Homo sapiens: one gene and its partners. The protein of the gene in region 1 interacts with the protein of each later gene in a pairwise test. Each region holds a gene or a part of one and is shown on either strand. Other genes may lie near its edges.

Region 1 (4,388 bases):
TGGGCATCTACCTAAAGGAAAATAAGTCATTATATGAAAAAGATACTTGCACACGTATGTTTATAGCAGCACAATTCACAATTGCAAAGATGTGGAACCAGCCTAAGTGGCCATTGACTAATGAGCAGATAAAGAAAATGTATCTATAAACTATGGAATACTACTCAGCCAGTAAAAGGAAAGAATGAATGTCTTTTGCAGCAACTTGGATGGAGATGAAGGCCATTATTCTAAGTAACACAGGAGTGGAAAACCACAAACTATGTTCTCACTCGTAAGTGGGAGCTAAATGATGGGAATGCACAGGCATACAGAGTGATATAATGGAACTTTAGAGACTCAAGGCGGGAGGATGGCAGTGGTGCTAGGGATAAAACACTATACATTAGTTACAATGTACACTATAAAACACTATACATTAGTTACAACGTACACTATAAAACACTATACATTAGTTACAATGTACACTATAAAACACTATACATTAGTTACAATGTACACTATAAAACACTATACATTAGTTACAATGTACACTATAAAACACTATACATTAGTTACAATGTACACTATAAAACACTATACATTACTTACAATGTACACTACTGGAATAACTGGTTTACTAAGATCTCAGAATTCACCACTACATAATTCATCCCTATAACAAAAAAATACTGGTACCTCAAAAGCTACTGAAATAAAAATTAATTTTCAAATTTTAAAGAAGACTTTTTCCTCATGATATTGATTGATTGATTGAGACAGAGTCTTGCTCTGTTGCTCAGGCTGGAGTGCAGTGGTGCGATCTTGGCTCACTGCAACCTCCACCTCCCGGGTTCAAGCGATTCTCCTGCCTCAGCCTCCTGAGTAGCTGGGATTACAGGTGCCTGCCACCACACCCGGCTAATTTTTGTATTTTTAGTAGAGACGGGGCTTCACCATGTTGGCCAGGCTGGTCTCGAACTCCTGACCTCAAGTGATCCGCCTGCCTCGGCTTCCCAAAGTCCTGGGATTACAAGCATGAGCCACTGTGCCCGGCCAATACATGATTTTTAATTAAAAAGGACAAAGCAGGCTGGGCACAGTGGCTCATGCCTACAATCCCAGCATCTTGGGAGGCCAAGGTAGGAGGATCACTTGAGACCAGGAGTTTGAGATTAACCTGGGCGATACAGTGAGACCCTGTCTCTACCAAAAAAACAAAACAAAGAAAACAACCAAAATTAGCCAGGTGTGGTGGCACACACCTATAGTTCCAGCTACTCAGGAGGCTAAGGCTGGAGGATCGGTTGAACCCAGAAGGTTGAGGGTGCAGTGACCCGTGATCACGCCACTGCACTCCAGTCTGGGTGACACAGCAAGTCTTAAAAAAAAAAAAAAAAAAGTCAAAGCAGAAAAGGTTATCTTCCTACAAGAATCACAGAAAGGAGGAGGAACACAAACTGAACTTATCTTAGCCAGTCAGCAATCCAAGGAGGTCAGGGAAAGACAGTTTTCCTTTGAGACCATCCCTAACGTGACTGTCTTGAAGTCACACTTTGGTGACTCCAAGGTATAAGAAAAATAAGCAACTCTTGGCTGAGGGCCTGTGTCTACCACGCCTAACCTCACTGCGATCTCACAAAGGCAGATGTTACCATCCTCACTGTAGAAATGAGAAGTGAACTGCCGGGCGCGGTGGCTCACGCCTGTAATCCCAGCACTTTGGGAGGCTGAGGTGGGTGGATCACAAGGTCAGGAGTTGGAGACCAGCCTGGTGAAACCCTGTCTCTACTAAAAATACAAAAATTAGCTGGGCGTGGTGGCAGACACCTGTAATCCCAGCTACTTGGGAGGCTGAGGCAGAGAACTGCTTGAACCCGGGAGGCGGAGATTGCAGTGAGCCGAGATCATGCCACTGTACTCTAGCCTGCGTGACAGAGGGAGACGCTGTCTCAAAAAAAAAAAAAAAAAAAAAAAAAAGAAATGAGAAGCAAACTATAAATTGTCTGCCACTCAGGGAGGGCAGTAAAGCCGTCAGGCCCTTGGCAGGAAGTGATGGGTGTGGGAAGGACTCTGCACATCTCTTTCTGTGCTCTCCTCCTGGCCCTGGCCCCTTCCTGGCCGTCTCAGAGTAATGCCGTGCCCATAGCAATTCACATCCATCTCCCCCTCTTCCCTTCAGACCTTGCTCAGGCCCTGAGGACTGGCACTGCTTCAAGCCTAAAATGAGTCAAGTTTTTGGGTGGGATGGGTGTTTTCAGAGCTCTGGGATTCTCCTTCCCCCAGCTTTGAACCCAGAGATGTCTGGTGACGGCCTCCGAGAATCACAGTGCTAGAAGGCAGGGTGAGCACATCACCATGCAGGCCAGCCACGCTCTCCGGCCATGGGCGTGGCTGGGCCCAACTCACCTGGTTGGCCTGCCCAGGCCCATGGGCTGCCTCTAGGGCCTTGTACAACCCCTCCGACATCAGCACCAAGAAGCCCGTCACCCCATCCAGCGGCTGTGCCCCATGGATTTCTGGCTCTGCGATGATTGGTTTGGACTTGGCAGCGCTATGGGGAGAGAGTGGAAGGAAGAGCTTTGCTTGGAACAGCCCGCAGGTGGATGCTGATTCTGCTGAGGGGAGGAATCTATGCCCAGAATGTAAAATAAAACACACAACCTGACAAGAGGAAAAGAAAAGAGAGAAAGAGAAGGTCAGAAAAATAGACCCATCGTCTTACAGCAGCTGCTAAAATAAAGCTTGGAAGGCCATAAAAACTGGCAGGCAGCTGAGGTCAGGATGGCAAAGGTTGAATGCCCGATTCTGGCCTGTTCCATACGTCCTGTTCACAGGGTCCGGTGGTGGCAGGGCAGGGTGTGGGACAGCAAGAGGGAGGGATTATCCCTGGGAGCCCAAGCCTCTTGCTATTATTTGGGCTTTTCCAAAACAGATGGCTGAGACCCCAGATACTCTCCATGTGTACAGGGATCCTTTAGTGACTGGGGTCAGAGTCATTACATGCCAACACATGTGTGTGCACATGGAGGTAAGTACATGAGGAGGTGCTGGCAACACCATCCAGAAGAGCGGAGTCTAAGAACTTCCTGAGGGTCCGTCAGCCAGGGCTGGGCCCTGGGAGCGGTTATTACACAGAATGACGCCATCCTAACTGCAGGTGAGCAGAATGAAGAGATGAGCACCTTTAATGATAGCAGTGAGGGGTGTGTAAACATATCTCCAAACTCATCAAGTTGTATGCATGAAATAGGCACAGCTTTGCATATGCCAATTACACCTTAGGGTTTAAAAAAAAAGAAAAGAAGGAGGAGCAGGACACACCAGCACCTGGGAGGGGCAGGACACACCAGCACCTGGGAGGGGCAGGACACACCAGCACCTGGGAGGGGCAGGACACACCAGCACCTGGGTGTTCCGAAAAGGATGCAGGCTCCTTGGCCCCCAGGACAAACACACACACACACACACACACACACACACACACACACACACACAGAGAGAGACACCCCAGCACCTGGGTGTTCCGAAAAGGATGCAGGCTCCTTGGCCCCCAGGACAAACACACACACACACACACACACACACACACACACACACACACAGAGACACCGTGTGTGTATATGTGCATGTGGCCAGATTTTGGAACAGGATACACAAGAAACTAGCAGCCTCTGGGGAGGCAGCGAGTCCTAGAGTGTGGTGTAGGAAGACTTCCTTTCCCTGTATAGACCCCAGCACTGTCTGAAGTGTTTTAAACTATGGATGTCCTTTCCAATAAAGGAAACAGGACCCCACAAATTAGGGACAAATATTCGACACTCAGTTGCCTAGATCGCGTGAGGGCAAGGAGTTCTAACATGCACTTTCTAGGCCATGAGGCCTCTGTTGATGGGAACTCTGGCTTTGGGAACAGCCTTGGCCATGACATTAAATGCCATGATTGGCATCAGGCAAGTGGACGCGCCTATCTCCCCAACCAACACTTCACATACAGGTTACCTGACGGTTAAGGACACATATTCCAAATTCAGGCTGCCTGTGTTCAAGCCCCATGACCAGGGTGGGCTGCCTGATGTCTCCATGCCTCAGTTTCCTCTTATGAAAATGCCTCTGGGGTGATGGCAGTGACTGCCTCAGGGGGCCTGAGTAGGGAATGCATAAAAGAAGGTACATCCAGAGCTCTGCACGGGCTTGGCCGTGTGATGATGACTGCCCATTCTGCTGCCATGAGCGCTGGGGTGATGTCCAGAGGAGGTGTCCTCAGAGGGAAATACACAATTCATCTCACACCTCTGCTGCAGCCATGGGCAGCACCGACCAACAGGCCTGGTCTGTCCATCCCATGCCAACTCTGGCTTCGCCTGCCTCCCTTGTGGCACTAGTTGCTGCCCTCAGCTTTGGCCCAG
Region 2 (4,388 bases), on another chromosome or scaffold:
GCATTTAGATTCCTACTTCAGCAAAACATTTATTTCTAGGATGGATTAGGGAGATATTGACATGAGTGATGAATCACCAAAAACTTACAAACATCTCTATGTTAAGAACAAAATAATTCATAATTACATAATATTTTTGCCAAAGAGAATGACTATGTAATCACAGATTTACTGACTTCCACTTCACTCTTTAGAGTCAGTTATGCCTGCCCCTTATCGCAGTCACACAAAACAGTTTACAGTGGGAAAAAAAAAACCCTTTAAATTCAATCTTAAAATAGGCTATCTTAGCCATTTCAACTTAGAATATTTCTGAATTATTTTCAAAACTCATGCTATTATGAAAAACTTTATGGTAAATAATACTTTAAAATTAGAAGCTGAAGAGAACTACGATTGCTAGTGAATCAGGACTTAGCACCAGGAAAAAGTGATTTCATGGTTTACTATCTCCCTTCATATTCTCCATCTCATCTGTAAAACAGTTACAACTATATGGGAATTTTAGAAGGTTTGTTCTTTGCAAAATGCTTTGGCAGATGATAAGTTAACACTTGTTTTTTTCCCCTTAAAACACTATTTCCTATCAGTAAAATTCTGAATTTCTTTTATGAGTTAACTGCTTCCTCTCATCACTTGGCCAAGAGAACAGGACATACATGGATAACAAAATATATCCATTTGCATTCACACACATCTGAGAGGACGAGGATCTAGCTTATTTTTATCGACATCCAGGAAAGCAATCCTATAACCTATGTTCCACTTTGCTTCTAATCCCTTTGGTTCAGCGGCAAGTTTATTCTAGAGTAGCACTGTCCAATAGAAATTTCCATGAGAGTGGAAATATTTTATATCTGCACTATGCAATATGGTAGCTATTAGCCTCATGTGGCTACTGAGCACTTGAAATGTGGTTGGTACAACTGAAGAACTTGATGCAGTTCCTGTCAAACTGGGCTTGGGTTAGAAACATACTGGGCTGGTACGTCCTCCACCCAAAAGTCAGGCAATAGATTTGAAGGGACACATCACCAAAGAAGATCTACCAGAAGTCTGCAAATGTTTTCTCTAAAGGGCCAGAAAGTAAATATTTTAGGCCAAAATGTCTGTCAAGACTATTCAGCTCTGCCACTGTGGTACAAAAATAGCCATACGGGATACATAGATGAATGCATGTTCCAATAAAACTTATTTACGAACAGTGAAATCAGAATTTCATATAATTATCATGCAACATGGAGTATTATTCTTTTAGATGTTTTCAACCATTTAAAATGTAAAAGCTATTCTCAGGGTGCAGGCCATACAAAAACAGGCTGTCAGGCCAAAACACCAGCCTGGTTTGCAAGCCTGAGATATACAAATGTCAGTAAGCACATGAAGAGATACTCAACATGTTAGTCATCAAAGAAGTACAAACTAAAAACACAAGATCCTACTAGAAAGGCAAAAAGAATGACAATACTAAATGTTGGCGAAGTTATGAAATAACTCGAGGTACAGTCATTTTGGAAAATTGACAGTTTCTTTAAAAATGTAAACATACACAATAAGACTCAGCCATCCTACTCCCAGGTACTCAAGAGAAATAAAAATGTACATCCATACAGAGACTGGTATATGAATATTCACAGCATCTTTATTCACAATGACTAAAAACTGGGAACAACCTGAATGTCTCCCAAAGAGTGAATGGATACATCCAATGTGATATATTCATACAACGGAATACTTGGCAACAATGAAAAGTAACCAAGCACTCCTACTATGCAACAATGAGAATCAATCTCAGAGTTACTATGCTGAGTGAAAGAAGTCAGAAAACAAGAGTATACAGTAAGTCCATTATATAAAATTCCAGAAAATGCAAACTAATTTATAGTGACAGAAAGCAGAACAGGGTTGTGTGGGTCTGAGAGCTGAGGGAGGAACAGACTGCAAAGAGGAAATGTTCCATATTTTGATCCCGGAGTCACAGGTGTATGTATCTGTCAATTTGTACACTTTAAATGGATGCAGTTTACTGTACGAATAAAATTTTAGTAAAAAGGAAAGATTTTATTCCACTGGCAACAGATTTACACAACAGTAATCTCTATGAACCAAATATCCACTTTTGTGAGTGCTGTTTACATTTGAGGGGACGGGTATGGGAGGAATAGATAAGAAGTTGGGTCAGCCAGGTGCGGTGGCTCACGCCTGTAATCCCAGCACTTTGGGAGGCCGAGACAGGAGGATCACCTGAGGTCGGGAGCTCAAGACCAGTCGGACCAACATGGAGAAACTCCGTCTCTACTAAAAATACAAAATTAGCTGGGCGTGGTGGTGCATGCCTGTAATCCCAGCTACTTGGGAGGCTGAGGCAGGAGAACTGCTTGAACCCGGGAGGCAGAGGTTGCCGTGAGCCGAGATTGCGCCACTGCACTCCAGCCTGGGCAACAAGAGCAAAACTCCATCTTAAGAAAAAAAAAAAAAAAAAAAAAGGTTGGTTTTTTTTAAGTCTCACCCTATCAATGCTATCAATGTTAACACGAAATGTGCCTTTGGGAACCTCTAGGGTACATTAACAGTAACCTAAACCAAACAGCTCTGAATGGACAGGTTTTAGGAATTCTGTGAAATTAAAACTTCTTGCTCACAACATTCTGCTCTCCCTGTATGGAGTGTGGCTAACTGTAGAATTCCAAGAACTAGTAAATAATCCTTTACATTACAACAAATTTTCATTTGTAACACCTGTGGGATAATGTCCTTATTTTATTTGAATTTAATTTAAATTAATTAATTAATTTTTTTTAAAAGACTTGGGGTCTTGCTATGTTACCCAGGCTGGACTTGAACTCCTGTACCCAAGTGATCCTCCCAGCTTAGCCTCCCCCCCAGTAGCTGGGACTACAAGCATGTGTGCCCCTGCCTGGCCTGTCCTTAAATACTCCCTGTTGCTCAGGTTCAATTCACCTAAAAACAATTTAATTTGGTTTTATGAAGGCCTGAAGAAAGTTGCTCAGTTCTGGAACATTATCAGTTCAAAATATTAAGACTAAGGAAAACAAGGTCACATTTTCCAGTAAGTTTTATTTAATCTTTAAAATTCTTGGGTATGCCCCAGGCTAGTTTTTGACAAGACCTCGCAGGGATCCTTAGATGGGTCAATGACAAGCTGAAGACAAAAATATCACCTACTAACACGAACATTACATTCTAAATAATTTGTGGCTATATATTGGGCAAAATTTAGATTTTTTTTCAACTGAGATGTATAGATTTTATCAATACATCAACAGATGTATTGATATGTGAAATATACATCAGGTTTCCCAGATCTTTTTCAGAGCAAACTTTATGTTTCAAGTTCTTACAGTTAAGTTAAATTTCATGACTAATTTTAGACAACGTCTTTTTGGAAGACAGAAGTAAAGCACTGAAGTTCAGGAGTTAGCAGAGGTGAATGAGGTTAAAAAAAAAACAAGCTTTGAAATAATTTTTGCCAAACTCATGACATATGCTTTCAAAACTTTGCAAACAATTTTAAATAGAATTGGAAAAAATCCTAAGAAAACCCTTCATTTCCCTTTTCTAGCCTTAAATACACCCCTTTAAACCATAAATTGACTCAAACTTTAGGGCAAATGTCTAGCAAAACTCTCAGTTCTTTCTGAGACTGCACATTGTAAATATCATAATTTCTTATCATGCAAAGTACCAATGAGATCAGCATGTGTCCAACTCAAGTTCATATATTTAAAAGCTAAAAGGCCACTACAGTTATAAGATTACAATTTCCTGAAGTAGTACAAGGGATATTTTAATAATCTGCTTGTTTTCAGAGGAACATTGTTTTCCAGAGGAAAATATTTTGATTTTTTTTTTCATCTAACTAATGTTTTTCTAAGAGAGGTTTAAAACCCAGGGGCTTTTAAGTGAGAATCATTTCTCAGCCTACCGGCATCAACATTTGACTAATAATGTTAATTTCTTGTCCCATAAGAAATATCTTTCACTGCTTATTGTCCAACTAAGAGACCTCTTTCGTTACTGTTTGGGGCATAAGAGAGCTCAATTTGTGAGAAGTGCTACAGATGACTAGATCTTACAGAAAAAAACTCTGGGAGTTTAAGAAATTAGGCGTAAAGAAGAGGAAGATATATTTAAGATAGATAAAATGGAAATGTTGGTTTGAGCATAAATATTTTAAGGAATTTTACAAACATGTACATATGAATTGAGAACACGGTGCTATATTGGGGAGAGAATACAAGGATGACAACTGGAAATCCCATCCAGAATGCTTGAAGTACAAGGGACTTCACAGATCACTTAATCCAGGCTCAGAGACCAAACGAGTTTCCCAATTAAATGGCATAACACTATAAAAGGCTTAGCAT
Region 3 (4,004 bases), on another chromosome or scaffold:
GAGCTAACAATGTCTCCGGGCTTACATTTTCTCATGTGTAAAATGGGCCAAGCTTAGTATACCTAGAGTGTATAGGCAAGGGAAAGAGAGAGATGAGTGAGGGAAAGCGAGAATCCACTGAGACAGTAGCTCTCACTTTGCCTGACCTGCTAGCTTCCTCTCTTGTCCTGGTGTTGACCCATTTTGGACCTCAGGCCAGCTGGCTCCAGGGCTGTGCTTGTGCCTGCTCTGCCATCCCCATGTCTACATCGCTCAGGGCTCCCAGCCCACTGTGCTGCTCAGTGGTGTATATTTCACTTACCTTAAGGCCCAACGACTTGGAAACACATCCAGAAAGTCTGCTAGAGGATGCCTGAATGGTCAAGGTCATCTCAGTCAGGGCACCCAGGGCCACATTGCTCCCTGCAGTCCTTCCCCACATAGCTTGAGAAATGGCTGCCCCAGGAGGGTGCAAGGGTGCAAGGGTGCAGGGGTTCACTGATTACTGGGGAGAGAACAAGTTCAATTCCATGGTTAAAGAAGAAAAATGCAAATTGAATACCTGGCCCAAGGAGGTTCCTGGTCCCACCCCATGCCACCCTTGCCCTGGGATGTACTCTCCTTATGGTCTGACCTATGAGATCTCAGTGGACTCTATCCTCAGAAATCACAGAGTCCAGGATTGCAAACTGGAGGCCCTGCTGTGAGGCCCTGCCCACAGGTGGGTCTTGCCTGGCCTGTAGAGAGCTGGCTCTCTCACTTCCACACATCCCCACCATTCCCCACCGTGGCACCATGGAGTCTTCCTTACCTGATCTAGGAAGGCGGCGCTGGAGCTTGCTGCCCCCTGTCTGATCCAGCCCCTCATGTTGTAGGAGGGAGGTGGGCGACTGAAGCTCAGAGAGGGAGTAAATGAGCTCAACTTCACACAGCTAGTGAGGGGCTGGTTGGAGACCAGATTTTCCAAGTGGTTCCCCGGGCCCTCGGGGAGCAGCAAGGGCCAGGCGAACCTCCATGCACTGCACAAACATGAAGAAGTGAACCCTCTTGGGGTTCCCCAGGTGGGAAGTGGGGTGTCTTCTTGGGAGGGGGTGAACCAACTTCTGGTGAGTTTTCCTTGTTGAGGCAATGCTGCACCCGTAGCCTGTTTGTTAATAATTACCTGGTCGGGAGAGAGTGGGTGGTACTGAGAAGGCCTGGTTTGACCAGTCCTCCTGGGCTTGATAAGACAGAGCTGAGACAGCCACCCAGGGGGTCCACTCCAGGACAGACTGTGCCGTGAGTAACCCCCTGAGACAATGGAGACGAGAGACTCTAGAGGGAGGGTGACCAACTGTTCCACTTTGCCCAAGACTGATAATTCTTCTGGGATATATTTTCAGTGCTAAAACCAGGAAAGTCCCAGGCAAGCTGGGACACTTTGTCACTCTTGCTAGAGGTGAGAAATACTCAGGCTAGAAAGGCCCCGACTTAGGGTCCATGGGCACTGGTGGGTGACTATGCCCGGAGACCCAGAAAAGCCTCCCCCAGGGACACACAGCTGGTACAGGGCGGCACTGACTGAGGGCCAAGGTCTTCTGGCTGCCAATCCAGGTGATCTTGGGGAGCTCATGCCGGAGGGGAGGTGTGTCTGTGAGTGATGCGGTCCTATGTATGTTTCTAAATGATCCCTCCAACTGCTGAGTGGAGAACAGAGAGCAGAAAGACTAGGAAGCTTTCTGCAAGGGTCTAGGTCAGGGGTCAACAAACCACAGCTTGTAGGTCAAATCCGGCCCACCGCCCATGAGCTAAGAATGCAAGATGTAAAATATAAATATAAAATATAAGTGATAAGTATAAAAGATAAATATATAAAGCTATGAAAAATCAATAGAAGAACAACATTTTGTGACACAGGAAAATAATATGAAATTCACATTTCAGTGTCCGTAAGTGAAGTTTCACTGAAACACAGCCACGCCTCTTCATGCATGTCCGGTCTGTGGCTGTTTCCAGCTGCCACAGCAGAGTTGGGTAGTGGCAGCAGAGACTGTGTGGTCTGCAAAACCACAGATATTACTATCTGGCGCTTTGCAGAAAAAGTTTTCTGAGCCCTGGTTGAGGATCATAGCAAAAGAGGGGGCGAGAGGCTGAAGAACCTACAGGAGAGTCTAGGAGTTGGAGACCAGCTTGGGCAGCATGGTGAGACCCCAACTCTATAAAAAATTAGCTGGGTGTGGCTGTGCATGCCTGTAGTTCCAGCTACTTGGAAGGGTGCATGCCTGTAGTTCCAGCTACTTGGAAGGGTGAAGTGGGAGGATCACCTGAGCTCAGGAAGTCAAGGCTGCAGTGAGCCATGATTACACCACTGCACTCCAGCTTGGGTGACAGAGTGAGACCCTGTCTCAAACAAACAAACAAACAACCAAACAAACAAAAAAAACCCAACCCTGCAGGTCATGGAAGTGGATTAAATGGATTTTGGGTGGATAGAAGCCTAGAAGCTTTTTGGCCTGACAACCGGATACTGGTGGGACCATTTGATGGGGCAGGAGCAGATTTGGGGGAGAAACTGGAGTATCCTTTCTTGGACAGATGTTCATTATGAAACGGGTACCAATTCTATCCCCACAACTTTGGGCAGGTCACTTATTAAACATCCATGTCCTTGTCTGTACGGGGTAACAATACAAAGACCAGTTCTACTGACCTCTACAGGGGTGGGAGGGTCAAACTAAATGGCTGAAAGTGGTTTGTAAACCATATAAAGCACTCCACAGATGTTTGTGGAACAGACCCTAAAATAAACTCTGAGGATAGCCATCCTCCATGCAAAATCACTGCACTAATGAAATCAACTCATCTGAAAGACAAGTGTGGGAGAAGCAGCACCTGAGTCTGGGGATGTGGGTTCTGGCTGGGATATGTGCTAGGTAGGTGACTTGGGTGAGTCACTTTGGGAGTCTTCATTTCCTGCTCTGTTGGGTGAGAATGGAGTCTAGTGCTGTGCAGAGCTCACACAGGTGGGAAACACAATGACATGATGGACACAAGGAGTGTGCCTTGTAAGTCTAAAACATTGCCATCCAATAGTGTTGCTGTCACCATACATGTGGAAGGTGGTGGGTGTTACATTGCCTTTCACAAGCCCATCTGCAGGAGTTGAGGGTGTCACTCACGATCTCCGGGTGCTGGCCCACTGCCAGCCTTCTCAGTAGGGCCAGGTGTTCTTCTGGGGGAATTTCCTGGGCATTCTCTTCCCTCCCATAGGCCTGAGAGTGCAGAGGATGCATCTTATCGACTACCTGCTCCTCCTGCTGGTTGGACTACTGGCCCTTTCTCATGGCCAGCTGCACGTTGAGCATGATGGTGAGAGTTGCAGTAACAGCTCCCACCAGCAGATTCTGGAGACAGGTGAGGGCTCCCCCAGCCTCAAGATAGCCCCTGCCAATGCTGACTTTGCCTTCCGCTTCTACTACCTGATCGCTTCGGAGACCCCGGGGAAGAACATCTTTTTCTCCCCGCTGAGCATCTCGGCGGCCTACGCCATGCTTTCCCTGGGGGCCTGCTCACACAGCCGCAGCCAGATCCTTGAGGGCCTGGGCTTCAACCTCACCGAGCTGTCTGAGTCCGATGTCCATAGGGGCTTCCAGCACCTCCTGCACACTCTCAACCTCCCCGGCCATGGGCTGGAAACACGCGTGGGCAGTGCTCTGTTCCTGAGCCACAACCTGAAGTTCCTTGCAAAATTCCTGAATGACACCATGGCCGTCTATGAGGCTAAACTCTTCCACACCAACTTCTACGACACTGTGGGCACAATCCAGCTTATCAACGACCACGTCAAGAAGGAAACTCGAGGGAAGATTGTGGATTTGGTCAGTGAGCTCAAGAAGGACGTCTTGATGGTGCTGGTGAATTACATTTACTTCAAAGGTGAGAGTCAGATCATTGGTATATGCTAAATCCACACCACCGCCTCCAACCCACTAATTTGTTGACTGGTTAAATATATTTTTACAAAAATGTAAGTAAAAACGTTGTGT
Region 4 (4,388 bases), on another chromosome or scaffold:
CACCACCACGCATGGCTAATTTTTCATATTTTTAGTAGAGACGGGGTTTCACTGTGTTATCCAGGATGGTCTCGATCTCCTGACCTCATGATCCAGCCGCCTCGGCCTCCCAAAGTGCAGGGATTACAGGCGTGAGCCACCGTGCCTGGCCTAACCCAAATATTCTTTAAAAATATTTTCTGCATAGTATACTGAATGACATCTAACAAGTTAACTCATTATTAATATCACTCATGGTTGAAGACAGTATAAAGCTACTTGCAAGTTGATGAAAAAGAAAAATATATAGATAAAAAGTTCTAATTATCAGATTATTCTTACCTATTAGTATGGCTATAAAAATAACTGAATTCTTGTTTTTTCTAAGTTAACTGTGTTTTATTTAATGTGAAAAACATTGAAGCAAACTTTCCCCCGTTATTCCTTGAATATCTGTTGTATTATAAAAGCTGACATTTATTGAGTACTCACTATGTGCTAGGTACTATGCTCAGGTCTCTCTGTAGCAACATTTCTTTAAACCTTACAAAAACTCTTATGAGGCCTTTATTTTGCTAAGGCTCAGAGAAACTGACTAATGTATCAAGATTAGGGTAGAAGACAGTGAAGCAAGAACACAATCTCACATAAAGACTTACCCTAACCTACCAAAAATACATTATTTCCTTGCCTATTCTGATAAGAAACTGAAACCATCCGAGTATGATGTATTAAGCATATGTTAAAAATTACCACTTAATGTAATTAAAACATTCATTTTGTATTGAGTTATTTTATTGGATCATTATTTAATGTTTCTTGACATGACAGTGTCAGGTAAGTGTGTATCTACCTATGAAAGAACAGAACTACCTTCTGGGAAATTTACAGTATTTATAGGTTTCTTATAACTACACTTCTGTTTAAATTAAATTAATGAAGACTAAGTAAAAATTTACCACAGGGAGGAGTAAGGTCCCTCATTGTGTAGCTTCTCTATGCACTAATAACCTCCTGGCATGACAGGAGACACCTCATGGACTGTTCATTTAAATCCTTACAAAGTATGACTTTTAGATCATGTAGCTGGTTTCTGTCACTTTTTCACCTTATCTCAATATCTGTGTTAAATGAACCAAATAAATTGCATGTGAATTCTTTATTCCTATTATGGCTTATTTCCACGCACGCTTCAGGTATTTACACACATTGTAAGATCACAAGATTGACGATTTTAGTCTATATGTCTTTAACTGAGCCTTGAAGATGGCTGGAGCAACTAGAGTAACTGTGAATATGGTAATGGTAATTCCATTACCATATTATGGAATGGACACATTCTGAGGCCCTTCTGCCCACTGTACTATAAATTCAGTCTTAACCGTAATGTGCTTCTGAAGTTCAACAGTGTCAGTTATTAAAAATTCCTGTTTAGTACACAATATCTGAAAAATATCTGGAAACAATTTATCTTGGAACGTATTCTTGGATGCATAATGTGTTTTTTTTTTCCAATTTAAAATAAACTTCATGCATCTCTGATGGAGAAATCATCAAACTTTCTTAAGGACTTCATAAGCACAGCTGTGACCGCTGAACATGGGATCACAAATTACCTCTGGTGGTGGTGGCCAAAGAAGCGAACGTCGACTTGATTGTCTTCTTTCTGCATGACTTTGGCTGGCCAAAACCCAAAACCTTTCATTTTAGCCCAAACCAGCTCATGATTAGGTATCTGGAAATTAAATGTTTTACCTTGTTATATTACTTTTAAAGTATTAAATGCAAGTGTACCATTAATATTAAACTAGTCACATATAATCCATTATTTCTAAAATATTTCTTTCATAACTCCTAAACACATACGAGATTTTTTTTCTGGGATTGACTGATTTTATATTTGCATCAGAGTGCCAACATGAACCTTATTCCTCAGAAGAGGTCGGGACTGGAGCAAGGCCATCCACATGTATGACGGTGGCAAACAAGAGCACCCGCTTGGCCAAGTGCAGCTGGGGAGCCAGCAGCTCCAGCACCCCTGGGAATTTGTTAGAAATGGGGAAATTTTAGGCTGGCACAGTACTGTCTTCACAGGGCTGGCTTCTCTCAGGCAGCCAAGGCTGCCGGCCAAGAATGCTCAGAATTCCCTTTGTCAGTGCACGGTTTGAAGCTGTATTATTTTGGGGAAATTATACAGCTACAGACAAAGGCAAAGCCTTAGGTCTCTTGTGAAAGGATGAAAGGAGAAACAAAAATTCACTTTATTAAGGGACCCAGACGCTGGGTGTGGTGGCTCATGCCTGTAATCCCAGCACTTTGGAAGGCCGAGGCGGGAGGACTGCTTGAACTCAGGAGTTTGAGACCAGCCTGAGCAACATGGTAAAACCCCATCTCTACAAAAAATACAAAAATTAGCCAGGTGTGGTGGCGTGTGCCTGTGGTCCCAGCTACTCTGGAGGCTGAGGTGGGAGAATCACTTGAGCCTGGAGGAGGTCAAGGCTACGGTGAGCTGAGATCACACCACTGCACTCAAGCCTGGGCGACAGAGTGAGACCCTGTCTCAAAAAGAAAAAGGACCCAATATTTATTTTTATTCAGTATCTCATTTTAAAATCAGAAATGGATAACAAGCCCTGTTACTTTTTTTCAGTTGTTTATACTCATTAAACCCATATATACTATGATATTTTAAAAATTTAGGAAGAAAATTATAATCTTTAACCAAACTGGAAATAAACTTCCTTAGAGCTGTATGTTACACACTTGAGGTAAAAATTTCACATACACAAGGATAACAGAACCAGTTGTCAGGACGAGCATTTGACAAGTAAAAGCAATTCTTGCAAAGCTGCAGTTCATCCAGCTGAAAAAGAAAAGAAACTACTTTAGCCTACATAAAATATACATACACATTAAACTATATAAAATGTATCCATGTAAATTAACATTCACGTATATAAATAGTGTTGAATTTTGTTTCTTAATCTTTTAAGCCTAAATTTTAAAGTTTTCAATAAATGGTACTGGAAGACCCTGTCACTGTCCTCTTAGAACCATGTCGCTGGTCTCAGGCCACAGTTGGAACAGAAGCTGAGGCTGGTCTGACTGGGCCCTGCCCGGACCTCACTGGTTAGCACTTCAGACTGAATATTCCTCAGGAAGGTAACAATATCTGCTGCCAATCACAGCAGTCCTTACCTTTGCCTCATGTATGTCAAACATGAAAATAAAAGACCTTTTTTTGTTTTGTTTTGAGACAGAATCTCATTTTGTCACCAGGCTGGGGTGCAGTGGCGCAATCTTGGCTCACTGCAACCTCCACCTTCCACGTTCAAGCGATTCTCCTGCCTCAGCCTCCCGAGTAGCTGGGACTACAGGCGTACACCACCACACCCAGCTAATTTTTGTATTTTTAGTAGAGACAGGGTTTCACCATGTTGGCCAGGATGGTCTCGATCTCTTGATCTCGTGATCCGCCCAACTTGGCCTCCCAAAGTGCTGGGATTACAGGCGTGAGCCCCCACGCCCGGCAATAAAAGACATTTAAAGGAAATGGCACAACTAAAATGTAGATAAGAGTGGAATCCTGAAATAAATTAATTTCAGTTATAGAAAGAGTATAACTATTGGGCAATGAATAGTACCTCATGACATGTGTCTTTATATAGCATCCTCGCAATGTCAGCTTGCTCACTGTCTGCTGTAATTAAAAATAGATATTACCTATAAGCAATAGTCTGCAAATACAAGACTCAAAGTTACTATCCTTTTCTTTCAGTTTGCAAAAGTAGACATCTACCATTTCAAACCAAAATGTCCATTTAAAATAACGATAGCAAAATAAAATTACACAGGCAGCTTTTGTTTTCCATCCAATACAACCACTAATTCTCAGGGTATAGAGAATGACCTTACCTTTGGATGATGTGGTACTAGTGGGGAAATGATCAGAATTAATCATAGTGCTTATTAAAAACCTCTCAGCTAAAACAAATACATATAAAACTGTAAAGAGTAATTGTGTTTTCATCATTTAGTATACTATGATTTTGTTTTTGGCCAGTCCATTCTATAATCTATATCACCAGATATTCCTAACCTTATACTCTAAACTTGTAGATCATTAAGGTATTAATTCTTTGAAAGTAATGTTTTATAAAAGATAGTGTTCAACATGGAATGTAAATGGTGTGTTTAAAAATGCATACAAAAAAAACAAAAATATTCAACCTCCATAGAAAATCACGGTATTGTGGAGAAGCAATTGGGCATCAGCTTTGAACTCTTCATAACTTCGGTATTTCCCTTCATTCACTTTCTGCAGAGGGCAAAAAACAGAATGACGAAAAGAGTTACCAGTAAAAATACTTGTCTGGACTAAGTTCACAGGACAAGCAGTCTTTTCTAGG
Region 5 (4,388 bases), on another chromosome or scaffold:
TTTAAGTTCTGATAATACCATGTGCTAGAAAACATGAGGAAATAATAACTCATGTGTTGCAGGTGAGGCTATGAATGACTTGGCCATCATAGAGGGCAATCTGGCCATTCCTGGGAGAGGTGGGAGATGCACACCCGTAATCCTGCTTCCTGATCTCTGTCCCTGGAGGACTTTCACCCATAGGGACAAAGAGACTTGGGATGCACAGTCACTATAAGAGGGTCCCTATCAGTGAAAAGAACTAACCTTCACTCGGCAGTCAATGCATGATTCAAGTGGAAACTGACTCACAGAATGGAATACTGTATATTAGTTAAAATGAATTTAACTATGTATTAACATGGACTTTCAGACTGGAAAGGTCTCCACATCAACCTCCCAAAAAAAGTCTAGTTATGCATCATTTACAAGAGACCTACATAAAACAGAACACAAAAAGGTGAAAGACTAAAGAGTGGGACAGGAATCATAAAAACGGTTCCTGGCAAATGCAAATTTAAAAAGCATGTGGAACTCTATTATTGTTAGGCAAAACTGAATTCAAGGCAAAAAGCACTAAAAGGGACTGTAAAAAGAAACCAAAAAACCCCACAAAAACCTATATAACCTTAAAATACACACAAAATATTAAAAATAGAGAACTAATAGAAACTAGCAAATCCAGATTGAGTGTGGGTGACTTTCACAAATCTTCAGGTATCTGGTACTCATGTGGATAAAAAATATATAGATATTTTTAATAACATACTTAATACTCAATCTCACAGATGAGTCAAGAAATGTGCAGATACATCAAAGCACACGTATTTTTGAAACAACAGGCAAGATTCACAAAAATGGACCGTATCTAACTGGTTACAAAGAAAAATCTCAATAAATTATCAAGAATAAAACATAAACAGCCCATATTCACTAATAATAATGCAACAAAAATCAGAAAACAGTATCAAACAACAGAAGCCTAAATGCGTGGTGGAAGCAGGGAGATGGTATTCAGAGGAAACTTTACAGCTTTAAATACATTTATTTGAAAATTTAAAAATGACTAGTAAAAATTGCTTTTTCAAGAGGCTGGAATGATATAAAAAATCACTTGAATCACTGCATACACCGGAATAGCTACACTTAAAAAGGCTGACCACACCAATGTTGGGAAATATGTGGAGTCATCACAAGTCTCCCACACTGTGGGTGGAGGTAAAAAGAGTTCAGGAGAAGGCCCAGGAATGTCTTATAAAATTAAGCACACACATGCCCTATAATGCAGCAATTCTACGCCTAGTTAACACTAACAGAAATGAAAATGCATGTCCACAAAAAGTATAGAGTATTCCTATACAAGGAACTTTATTCATAGTAGTCAAGCCTGGAATCTGCTTAGGTGTCCTTCAACAGGAGAATGGATAAATCAACGCGTATGTTCATACCATAAAATGCTATTCAGCAATAAACAGCTGTAACCTACTGATACATGTACAACACAGATGAATCTCAAAAGCACTATGCTAAAAGGACGCCAGGCTTAAGTGGCTACATCCTGAAGGATTTCATTTCTGTGATGTTTAATAACAGGAAAAACTAGTCCATTACTTAAAAAATCAGAATAGTGGGTGCCTGGGGTAGAAGGGAGTTGACTAGGAAGTTGCACGACAGAGCCTGCAAGCGTGACAGAGATTCTGTATCTGGATAGGGTGTTTCGATTGCAGAGATTTATGCATTTGTCAGACCTTATAGTGCTATACTTAAGATGTGTGCATTTCACTGGTATGCAAATTTTAACTGAAGAAGGAGGAGCAAGAATCATAAACAGATACTGAACTCTCATTAATGATATATATGCTGAAGTATTTCAGGGTAAATGTACAAGTATCTGCAACTCAGTGAAATGAATGAAAAATCAGATGGATTGATGGACAGATGGAGGCTGGATGGAACGATAAGTGATAAAGTTAGCACAGTAAAATGTAAATGCTAGCATCTAGCTGGTGAGTATACAGGAGCCCACTATAAAATTCTTTCAACCGTATGTTTGAAATTTTTCATTATAAAATGTTAAGAAAAAGAAAACACCTCAAAACACAAAGGAAAGTAGTCCTTGATAAGAAAATTCAATTTAGATATTAATTCTCACCAAACTGACCTAAAAATTCATTGTAATTCCAATCAAACTACCATCAGAATCTTTCAAGGAAATCATGACATTCTTTAACAAGACATAACATGAAAAACAAATTATTAATTTGTAAAAGTTTTAATTTCTATATGATCAAGAAATAAGACATAAAGAATTATCAAAATTCATTAAGAAACAATGTAAAGGAAAAATGAGCGAAGAATATGAAGTGGCAATTGACAAAGAGGAGACATGAGTGCCAAGCAATGTGTGTCCACATGCTCAGCCTCACTAGTAACCAGGGAAATGGAGAACAAAGCAGGTCATTTATTCATTTTTCATCCTTCAGAGTGGCAGAAGTTAACAAGTTTGGAAGTCATCTTATGGAAGATAAGGAGAAATGGGTCCTTTGACGTTGTCGGGAAAGTAACCTACGAATGACCATTTGGCAGTATCAGTTTTAAAAAGGGGATGCCTGTGCCCCTTTAGTTTTTCCTCTTCAGAATCTCTCCTAGAGAAACCCAGCCACAGGTCTCAGGGCCAGGGAAGGGAGACGCGGTGGCACGAGTGGCTGGGATGAGGCTTCCCTGATGGGAATGCCTGTCACAATGGAACAGTCACATGCTCTGCACATGAGTCCAGAAACAGGGAAAGAGAGCATCTGGAAACCTCAAATACACTGAGATGGAAAGATTTCTGTGAATACTGTTAACTAAACATGTCAAGTATAGCATCATTTATGTAAAAAAGTATATAAAACTGATAAGAGGTATTTCTTTTTAAAAATATTTTTGTGTTTATTGTCAAATAGCACTCCAGAAATTTCTCATCAATAGTGTATAGGTAAGCATATTTCTTCATTGCCTCAATAATACTGAGTAATTTATGTGCTTTTAGACCTTTTTTCAAGTTGATTGTTTTGTATTTCCTTAGGTAGATGTATGTATGTACTGAGTGCCTACAAACTCCCTGGATGATTTACCTTTATGACAAGGGAGGCAGGAGGCCTGGAAGGATGGGAGGTCAGGCGGGACTTTCCGAAACTGCCCCAGTCATTTACATCAATGTGTGGATTAAATCCATAACTTAAAGTGAGAAGAAAGTCAATGTAAAAATATTGTGAAATAATTTATATAAATATATATATTTACAATTTGTATATAAATATATGAATGTTTAATATTTGTATAATTATAGCTCTGTAATTATATGTTATGTATTTACAATATATTATATAGTTACATAATATATTTATGTAACTATATATAAATGAACTATAAAAGTTTTATTTATAAAATACATAAATATAGGCCGGGTGCAGTGGCTCATGCCTGTAATCTCAGCACTTTGGGAGGCCAAGGTGGACGGATCACTTGAGGTCAGGAGTTCGAGACCAGTCTGGCCAACATGGTGAAACCCCGTCTCTACTAAAAATACAAACATTAGCCGGGCATGGTGGTGCGCATCTGTAATTTCAGCTACTCGAGGCTCAGACAGGAGAATTGCCTGAACTTGGCAGGCAGAGGTTGCAGTGAGCGGAGACTGCACCACTGCACTCCAGCCTGGGTGACAGGGCGAGACTCTGTCTCAAAAAATAAAATAACTAAAATAAAAGACATAAATATAAAATAAGAGAGAACAATAGTTCAACTTTTGAAATGACTTATATGCCTTTTTCCAAAGCCCCATAATTGTGCTCATGATGCAATTTCTTCTTTCCTTACTCTGTGTCTGAAGGACTATTAAGGAAAAATGCTCCATCACTATTGCTCAGCACAGAATCTTCCCAAATATCTTCCCTCTAGGTCAGGTGTGGTGGCACACACCTACAATCCCAGTGATTTGGGAGGGCGAGACAGGAGGATTGCTCGAGGCAAGAGTTTGTCACCAGTCTGGACAGCATAGTGAGACCCCATCTCTACAAAAAATAAGAAAAAATTATCCGGGTGTGTGGTGGCACGCACCTGCAGTCCCAGCTACTTGGGAGGCTGAAGGGGGAGGATGGCCTGAGCCCAGGAGTACAAGACTACAGTAAGCTGTGATCGTGCCACTGCACTCCAGTCTGGGTGAAAAGCCAGGCCTGTCTATTTGGGGGGGGAAAAAAATCTGCCCTCTGCAAGCAAGCTGCTGATGTCTGCTGAGACAGGTCGCTGCCCTGCCCAGCCTCCCAACGTGGTGTTGCAGCACATCATGGGTGGGTAATGGGTACAAGGCCCAGGGAAACAGAAATCAGCCAACACTGCACACTTTACCAACCATATAGTGTTCATGCTAT
Region 6 (4,388 bases), on another chromosome or scaffold:
TATAGTTCTTGCTACATTCCAGGCATTATTCTAAGTGCTTTATATATGTTAATTCATTTACTCCTTACAATAACTCTGTAAGGTAGTCACTATTACTATCCCCATTTTATAAATAAAGAAACTGAGGTAACTGAATATTCAAAAGGAGGAAAGCAGTTATAACAACTTTTTATCAAGTTATAACCTTTTTATCAAGAGAAAAGAAACAAAGTGGCTGGAAAATAACTGAACCAAGAGACATTACTGGATCAATCCAAGAAACTACCAGCGAAGCATCAATAAATATACGTCATTCATGGCCACAAAAGAGGGAATGAGGAAGAGTATGAATTAGGGCTTTTCATTAAACATGCAATTGAGTGTCGATCCCCAAAATTATCCTTCTTATGTAATTCCTCTAAATTATTTCATTTCTAAACACTAGTTTTGAAAAGTGAAACTTTCAGCTGGGCGTGGTGGCTCACGTCTGTAATCCCAGCACTTTGAAGGCCGAGGTGGGCGGATCACAAGGTCAGGAGATCGAGACCAATCTGGCCAACACAGTGAAACCCTATCTTTCCTAAAAATACAAATAATTAGCTGGGTGTGGTGGTGCATGGCTGTAATCCCAGCTACTTGGGAGGCTGAGGCAGGAGAATGGCATGAACTTGGGAGGTGGAGCTTGCAGTGATCCAAGACTGCGCCGCTACTCCAGCCTGGGCGACAGAGCAAGACTCCGTCTCAAAAAAAAAAAAAGTGAAACTTTCTAGGAAACATGGAAAGAGGCATTTGACCTCATCATTAAATGCAATTTCATTACAACTACCCAAGTCAAGTTTTACCTTGATCTTCGCTTCATCAGGTCCCTTTGTGGACTCTTGCACCTTGCTCCCCTGTTTCTCTCTCTGCCTGTAGGTCTTCATAACTCCACATAAAAATGCACTTTTGTTCTAGAACAGACAAGTAATTCAATAAAAAGAATCACCAAAAATATCTGAAGGGTCAGATACATAATTAAATTTAAATTTCAGAAAACCAGGATTTTAACAAAAGATTTACTGATTCATTCAACAAGTATTTGCCGAGTGGTTACTATGTGCCAGAGATTGGAGCAGACAGCAGTAAGGCAGTATAGACCTCAGGGAGCTTACCTTCTACCCTGGGAAAACACAGTCTTCCACTTGTTGATATGTGACTGTATCTAGACTGTCTTTGCCAGATGTCGGAAACTATTCCTCCCACCTACATTTTCCTCCAAGATAATAAAACAGGATCAAATAACCCCCAAATGTTAAAAAGCTGAGTAACATGTAAAAACCTATAGTAACAACCATCAAAACTTGGCTTTAATTTTAAGTTTTTAAAATAACTTACTGCACAAGGGGGTGGGAGAAAACTTTTGCTTTATACTTGGGCTTCTGAAACTCTGCCACAAGCAGTTTTTTTCCTTTAAACTAATTTTTTAAAAGAAGAGGTAGTCACAAACAAAAAATACCACTTCTCCATAGGAAAAAAAGTAATAGTAAAATAATTTCAGATTACTAATTGTTCAAAGACATTTCTGAGTAACGACCTTACCTGAACATGTGATAAGTCACTTTCCTTGAACTGCTGTAGTACAGACAGAGCTCCTTCTTCATTAAATTCCCTGAGAGCATCAATTGCTCTTTCATCAAGATCGACATAAGCTACCAATCCTAAAAATTAAATTGAAAGGGGTAACGTTATTGCAACAAAAGGGGTAATCTAAGCTCTACTGACGTTTAATCAAGAATTGTTACATTCAATATGATCACTAACAAACTGTATTTTCATTTAACTATATGCATATACGCAGCTATCCAAATACTACATAGAAAGGTCCAGGACAAATATGAAAATAAAGATAAAATGTCAACAACCAAAAACATGAATTTCAATCTCCATATCCACAAACCTCCCCCGCCAAATCCTAACATCCATTTCCCACTCCCCCAAAGGTATAAGTCTTGAAAGTTAAATCTGATGTACATACTGTATTACAGATTATGCATTAATACAACAAATTTTGGTTTATATTAGAGTGATAAGAATACATTGCGTTTTCCAAGGATAAACCTTCAAATTACAGACGGTTACAGTTGATGCTAACCACCTAAGAGGTGGAGGAAAATCTGAAAACAAATTTTACTAAGTAATTCTTTCCACTCTCCAAAAAGTGTCAAAAGGCTTTCCCTCCTGAACACCAAAGATAAACTGAAATGCATTTGTTTATCTGAGCATCCACTTTGCTGCAGTCAGAATGTGGAAAGGCATAATTTTAAACTTCTACAAATGCAAGTGCAGCTTGATTAATCAATTCTGAAAGTCATACTTTAAGGCATTCTTTGTTCTTCTGAAGTGACAAGCTGAGATTTAAAAGATGCTGTGGCATTCACATTGACTGTCAAGAACGACAATCATTTTCAAATGGCAATAAAGACTTTATGGTCTTACAAGTAAACTTGACAGAAAATATATACACTGCATTTCATATATGTAAGTATATTCAACTGCACACAGAACATCTACTAAGTTTAAAATATAATTTCTTAAGTCTGTTAAGTTTGTGTCATATTTACATATGGAATATATTTCAGAATTGATCCAACGTAAAATGCAAGTATTTCGTAGATTAAAACCCCCAAGTTCATATGAACATGAAAAGTGACTCCATTTTGATAAAGCTAAAAAGAACTTTATTCCATATAGTAAATTTTAAATAAATGTAATGCCACTTCCAAAGTTACTTTTTAAAAAAGTTGCCATGATTTGTTTCAAAAGCTCGAAATGAGCATGTGTAAATAACTGGAGCTGCCTCACTTGAATATTCCATACCACCACCCGAAGCCACAACTCAGGACACCCATCAATCCATTTTGTCAAACCAAGTCTACGCCCAAACCATCAGCCTCTTATCAATAACAAAACACTCTACAAGAGAGCATCTCTAAGCAGATCACTGCCAATTCTCTATGGCAGAATGTCACAGAAAGTTCCTGAGGACTGATTTTCAAATGCGACCATGACCCAGGAGTCATTTTTATAAGTCATTTTAATGTCTAAAATTATGCTAAGCTTCCCAGATTTAAAAATTTTTTAAGGACAAAAAAAAAAAAACAGCTATTTGCTACTACTGTACTTAAGACACATTTGTGAGTGAGACAATTCAATTCTCTCTCAGAATCTGAATAGGCACACACAACACAGAGGAAGAAAGTTTCCATCTATGTCCCCAAAGGAGGAGGACACATTCATTTATGAACAACGCTCCCTAAGGGTAAATATTTCTCTCCCTCTTTAAAACTTCAAACCACTTACAACCAACTATATTAAGATGTTCAAATTTGCTTAAGCACTTAACCATGGCACTTCTGGATTAAAAAAAAAAAAAAGAAGCAGCTGTTACAACCAAACACTTCCAAATTACGGAGAGATGTGGATTTCTATTAGAAACTAGACAAGCCACAAACTCTCAAGGAGTCTGACATTTATTATGGTTTCAGACGATACAGCTATCCTCTTGTTATGCCACCTAATCAGACCTAAGCTGATTTAACAATCACTTTAAGAAGGTAAAAGTAGAAAAGCAAAAGCAAAATGATGACTGATTTTGATTAAGAAAAAAATGTAAAATTTGGTATGCAGAAACATACATTTTTATGGGTGGTAAATCTAAGACAAATCGATGTGCTGTTCTGAAACAACTAAGACTGCATATTCAACACTAAGAAGGCTTCAAAATAATGAAATAAGAGTATCAAAGTCAAACCCAATATGCCTTCAATGAAGGGAAAGTAACAAACATTCAGCTCTACAGATCAGAAACAATAAGTATTATTTAACCTTAAAAAACTATAAAATTCAAAGTGGTTTGCCCTCACTTTCATAACCAGTCAGAAACAAGAAATGCATATTATACCTGTCTGAAATATTTCATCAAGTCTTTCTGCCACCTTCTGTGGGAGGCCTGCCTCTATCAGTGTCTTGTAGTGTTCTGTGTGAGTTACACTGGAAGTATCCATTGGTTCTTCCTCTTCTTTTAACTGTACCGCATTACCATTCACCTGATTAGCCATTTTATTATGCTGCTGGAAAAAATTCAGGAGCTATATTACATTAAGCCAGAAATAACTAGTTTGTAGGACAATGCATGATTTATCTAAACTAATTTGTATACATGCTGCTAATAACCTCTATCAAAATAATAATTTATTCCTCCTGTGATGTATCTGACCTAAATTGGCAATAATAATCCTGTAAAACCATAGAAAATGTACATGGAAGCATTAGATCTTTAAGGAACTTCATGTACACCGGGTAAGATAAAGGCTTTAATTTACTGAAGGTAGAATTGCTGATTAACAAAAGCAGCTGTTCTGTCCTGGTGA
Region 7 (4,388 bases), on another chromosome or scaffold:
CATCATTCACAGAGAGCGAGCGAGATCCCCAACATGGGGCAGCTGGGAGGGCGCCGGCGGCCTGCGAGTGACCGGCCAGGTAGCAGTCCTGGGGGCAGTGGCGGGGACTCTCGGGGGCTGGGCGTGCTGCCGCGCGGGTAAATCCAATGCGGGGAAGCCCCGGACCCGCACCCCGGAGGTCAGAGCGCACTTGTGTGTGCCGTGGTCACTAGGAAGCCACACGCCTTTTTCGCAGGGGGTTCGAGGAAATTCCACGTGGGCCTCACAGCGGAGCCCAAACCCTAAGCAAGCCCCACCGGCTGCAGAATCCGCAGGACCAAGTACCAAGGGAACCCAAGGCCCCTTGTTCAGAGTCACTAAGAATTCCCAGAAGCAGAGCAGAAGGGAAGCCAGAGGGGCCCCACCGAGCACCAGGGCCTCGTCGGAGGATCCTCACACCGAGGACGGCATCCCCAGCTCCATCCCACAACGGCCTCAAGCCACAGCCTCAAACCGTGGCCTTGGCACAGAGGTGACTCGGCAGAGCCCTGGTCCCGGACCAGCTCCCCTGCCCCCCAGCCTGGCTCCCCCAGGCCAGCTGGCCAGGGCTACCCGATACCAGGGACAGGGAGGGGTCTTCCTGGGGACCCTGGCAGGTGGGTAGAGCCAGATTCCTGTCCCTCAGCAGCAGGGACCCCACACCCTCCCCGAGGGTGAGATGGGGATAGGCTGGCCACGCCCCGCCGTGAGAGGTGGCCTTGAGCAGCCCTGGCTCGGGGTAGCATCCTGCCCCTCACTCCCCCTGGGGCAGGTGGCCCCGGCTGCCCAGAATCGCCCACTGCAGAGGCCCTGCCTGCTCTGGCACGGCCACCTCCGCTGGCAGGGTCCCTGCAGGAGCAGGAGTCTCCTGGCCACGGCCCCCACCCCCAGGCTGGCAGTGGGAGCACAGCCCGCATCCTCCCAGAAACCCCCACGTACCAGGCTCTGGGTGTCGCTCCCGCGTGGCTCTGACCGTGGCTGTAACCCCAGAGTGACCCCCGGGAGGACCCCAGCCCGCCCCAGCCCCACCCAAGGCCGCAGCCCCCTGACCCCAGGCCCCGGTCCCTGCGGAGGGAGGCTGGAGACCCGGCGAGGACGCCGCCTCCCGTGACAGTTCTCAGAGGTGCCTGGGAACTGGCTCCGGCCCCGTCCGCTGCCCTCATTTCCTCTGCCGGCTTCCTCTGCGGGGGGGCGGGGAGGCCAAGGCCGCCGGTCCCGCGGGCGCTTGTTCCTCTGTGAAAGGCAGGGCAAGGCCCAGGGGGGCCCAGACGCCAAAGCCCTCCTGTCACTGTGGCCTGCGGAGGGGACGGGAGTCTCCCCACCACGGACACGGGCTCCTGGGCCCCTGGATCTGTGCCACCAGGGACAGGACCGCAGGCCGAGGCCCCACGGCAGGTGCTTTGCATCAGGCTCCCACCCAGGAGTGGTCGAGTGGGCCTCCCGTCAGCCTTGCCCTGGCGTGCACAGAGGGGTCAGGTGGCCCTCGAGAAAAGCCTACCCCGGAAGAACCCCGTGAGCTGGAGACAGGAGGCCGGTGACAGCAGAACAGCGTGGTCCCAGGCTCACCGCCGACACCACATCCGAGGAGACACCGAGGTGCTCCGTGGACCCTCTGCCTCCCCCGTGGACCGAGGAGGAGGCAGAGGATGCCACGCAGCTGTGGCCCCGGCCTGCTTCCTCCTCACACCCAGCCAAGCGCCCTGGAGGGTTCTGAGGCTGGGGGCTAGCACGTGGCCTCATTTTCTTCCAAGGATAACTCTTCTCAGGATGGAGTCAGAGGCTCCTGATGTCTCGAGGCAGCTGTGCTCACCCCTCAGACCCAAGGAGACCCCCAGATGTGTGTCCTGGGACCACGGGCTGCTGGCCCAGACGGCAAGGAATGGATGTGCTCACAGTTCTGGACAGTGGAGGAGGAAAGCACGGCATGGGCAGGGCCACTCCCTCGAGGCGCTGGCGGGATCCTTCCTGCCTCTCCGGCACAGCGGCCCCAGGTGCTCCTGGGCCTGCATCACTCCAGCCTCTGCACGTGGCCTCCTTCCCGCGTGCACGCCACTCCTCCTCTTTCTATCAGGCCCCAGTCATTGGATTCAGGGCCCACCCTACTCCGGTCCGACCTCATCTTAACTTGATTACAGCTGCAAAGACCCTAGTTCTAAATAAGGCCCCATTCTGAGGTACTGGGCGGGCATGGGTTTGGGGTGACATATTCCACTCAGCACATGCCTCCAGGGGGCACAGGCAGGAGCACAGTTCCCAGGCGGCCGGGGTGGTGGGTGAGTGCAGAGAGGACGTGAACAGTCACCAGCCCTGGAGCTGCCGTGACGGCCCCCGGGTTCTCTCAGGAACCTCCTGGAGCGTGGGTGCTGCCGGACCCCATTTCAGAGGTGAAACAGACACAGAGAAGTTATGAGACCTGTCCATGGTCACACAGCAGGGCCCGGCCCAGGACACCAGCCCACGCCAGAACTCTCCCGTGAGGCAGGGTCAGGGTTGGGAGCCGGGGAGGCAGAGGGCATGGCGGGGAGTCGATGCATCCCAAACATGCAGGGTGGCACAAGGCAGACCTTCCAGCATGTTCCACACAACACAACAGCTGCCAGCCCACCCCAGCCAGCTCTGGGGCACTCGGGCCCACAGGGTGGCCACTGCAGGGGCCGGTCCTCTGGGTCACTGCACCACCCCATGGAGGGAAGCGCACAGCCTGGCCTCCTGGAGAATGTGCCGGAATGAGAGAAATGTTCTCCCTGACCCATGCCTGGGAGTGTGGGGCCTCACACCCACCCCCTCCCCGAGTGCCGACACCCACACCCTCCCCGAGTGCCCGCACCCATGCTGGTAGGTGGGAGCCGGACCCGTGCCCAGGGCCCACGGCCTGCGTGTGACCGCTCCCCAAGGCCACTGTCCACACAGCCTTCCCATGGGACCCTCTCCAAGAACCCACCTCGGCCTGCACACCTGCAGCCTAAGGGTCTCGGTGGGAGACCTGAGACCTGAGAGGAAGTAGGGGGATGGGCCGAACTCATGGGCACAGCTTCCTCTGGGGCATCCTCTGAGACCCCGGGGGCGAGAGGAGGACAGGTAACTCCTCCCAGGGCAGGTGCTTGCTGCCTGAGCCTGAGTGGTCTGGGAGACTGAAGCAGCAGCTGCCTTCAAACAGACTCCACACCTGGTGCCCGGGCAGTGTCAGCTGTGGGGCACCTTCCAAGGGGAGGACTCCCGGGGACCACCCAGGCCCATGGCCTCCTGCTCAGCCCCTTGAGCCCCTGAGTCCAGCCCTGCCCCTGCCACTGAGGCCATGCCTGGCCCGGGGCTCGCTGCCTCCTCTGCCCTCTCCCCATCAATAGGCTCATCCTGAGGCCCAGCCTGCCCAGCCCTGTGCCAGGTGTCCGGTTCACATGAATGCTGATAGAGCGAGCACCGTGGCCAGGCACAGGCACTTCTCCCAGGAACCCCCCATGGCGCCTGGTTCAGGTCAGACACAGGGAGAGACCTTGGGCAGGAGACAGGGCGTGAGCTGAGGGACAGGGGAGAGGCGGGGGTTGGGGGGTGGCAAATCCAGGCTGCCACGTGTTCCGAGAACTTCCACAAACTCCAAGCCCTGCCCACTGGTCAACAGTGACACCTCTGCGTCAGGGATCAGCCATGGTAGGCACTGCCCAGGTACCCACCCTTGGCTCAGTGCACCACTGCTGTCCCTTCAGACCTGGCCATCACAGCCATTCCCACCTTACAGATGACAAAACAGGCATGGAGAGCCAGTCACAGAAGGGCCCCTCAGCAAACCAGAGGTGGCCCCAGGGCAAACCCCTGCTCCTAACTGTGCAGAGCATTTGACCCCCACCCTCAGGCTGAGCGCGCCTCTCCAGAAGCCGGAGCGAGGCGGTGTCCCCATGCCCACTTCCAGCCTAGGACAGCTCCAGGCCCCAGGGCTCAGGACGACTAGAAATCATGACGCCCTGAGGCCGCACCAGGGAAGGTGAAGGCTGGGGAGGGTGAGCAACAAGGCCAGCCCCCTCCCTTGGGGCACTCAGGTAGAAGGGGTGACCTCTGCTCGCTCAAGGCCATGCCACCCCCTTCCTGCCAGCCTGGACCCGGCCATCCTGCCCATGTGTCACCCCCATCACCCTGCTTTTCCTGGCCGCCATGCCCACACTAGTCTCCCCAGAGCAAGATTTCACATGTGCAGAACGGATCTCAGAGAGGCTGGGTGAGTAGTCCGAGGCCACACAGCACAGAGGCTGGAAGGCTGCAGCTGCCAAGAAATCCCCCAGCCACGCTCCCGAGTGTCAGGGAGATGGGGGAAGAGCTGGGCTCCAGAGGAGGCGGCTCTTCCTGGCACTCAAGCAGGCTCCTGGGCCGGGTGCCCCCTG

What was found.
Region 2: the proteins of TAB1 (region 1) and XPO7 interact in a two-hybrid assay, tested with the Homo sapiens proteins (one large-scale study listed by BioGRID and IntAct).
Region 3: the proteins of TAB1 (region 1) and SERPINA4 interact in a two-hybrid assay, tested with the Homo sapiens proteins (one large-scale study listed by BioGRID and IntAct).
Region 4: the proteins of TAB1 (region 1) and ZMYND11 interact in a two-hybrid assay, tested with the Homo sapiens proteins (one study listed by BioGRID).
Region 5: the proteins of TAB1 (region 1) and ROR2 interact in a two-hybrid assay, tested with the Homo sapiens proteins (one study listed by BioGRID and IntAct).
Region 6: the proteins of TAB1 (region 1) and HNRNPR interact in a two-hybrid assay, tested with the Homo sapiens proteins (one large-scale study listed by BioGRID and IntAct).
Region 7: the proteins of TAB1 (region 1) and AATK interact in a two-hybrid assay, tested with the Homo sapiens proteins (one study listed by BioGRID and IntAct).

Annotation. Positions count from the first base shown.
Region 1 is NC_000022.11:39,419,972-39,424,359, reverse strand, and holds part of TAB1 (TGF-beta-activated kinase 1 and MAP3K7-binding protein 1), read right to left. Parts: intron 2,534-4,388; coding exon 2,389-2,533; intron 1-2,388. UniProt on the Homo sapiens protein: Key adapter protein that plays an essential role in JNK and NF-kappa-B activation and proinflammatory cytokines production in response to stimulation with TLRs and cytokines.
Region 2 is NC_000008.11:21,925,637-21,930,024, reverse strand, and holds part of XPO7 (exportin-7), read right to left. Parts: intron 1-4,388.
Region 3 is NC_000014.9:94,560,238-94,564,241, forward strand, and holds the start of SERPINA4 (kallistatin isoform 2 precursor), read left to right. Parts: upstream 1-1,204; 5' UTR 1,205-1,257; exon of another isoform or gene 1,258-1,478; coding exon of another isoform or gene 1,479-1,572; intron 1,573-3,228; coding exon of another isoform or gene 3,229-3,245; coding exon 3,246-3,894; intron 3,895-4,004. UniProt on the Homo sapiens protein: Inhibits human amidolytic and kininogenase activities of tissue kallikrein.
Region 4 is NC_000010.11:239,347-243,734, reverse strand, and holds part of ZMYND11 (zinc finger MYND domain-containing protein 11), read right to left. Parts: intron 4,298-4,388; coding exon 4,210-4,297; intron 3,680-4,209; coding exon 3,624-3,679; intron 2,843-3,623; coding exon 2,765-2,842; intron 1,715-2,764; coding exon 1,596-1,714; intron 1,142-1,595; exon of another isoform or gene 1-1,141. UniProt on the Homo sapiens protein: Chromatin reader that specifically recognizes and binds histone H3.3 trimethylated at 'Lys-36' (H3.3K36me3) and regulates RNA polymerase II elongation. Does not bind other histone H3 subtypes (H3.1 or H3.2).
Region 5 is NC_000009.12:91,750,953-91,755,340, forward strand, and holds part of ROR2 (tyrosine-protein kinase transmembrane receptor ROR2 isoform 1 precursor), read right to left. Parts: intron 1-4,388. UniProt on the Homo sapiens protein: Tyrosine-protein kinase receptor which may be involved in the early formation of the chondrocytes. It seems to be required for cartilage and growth plate development. Phosphorylates YWHAB, leading to induction of osteogenesis and bone formation.
Region 6 is NC_000001.11:23,336,933-23,341,320, forward strand, and holds part of HNRNPR (heterogeneous nuclear ribonucleoprotein R), read right to left. Parts: intron 4,089-4,388; coding exon of another isoform or gene 4,077-4,088; coding exon 3,920-4,076; intron 1,677-3,919; coding exon 1,558-1,676; intron 930-1,557; coding exon 822-929; intron 1-821. UniProt on the Homo sapiens protein: Component of ribonucleosomes, which are complexes of at least 20 other different heterogeneous nuclear ribonucleoproteins (hnRNP). hnRNP play an important role in processing of precursor mRNA in the nucleus.
Region 7 is NC_000017.11:81,159,279-81,163,666, forward strand, and holds part of AATK (serine/threonine-protein kinase LMTK1), read right to left. Parts: intron 1-4,388. UniProt on the Homo sapiens protein: May be involved in neuronal differentiation.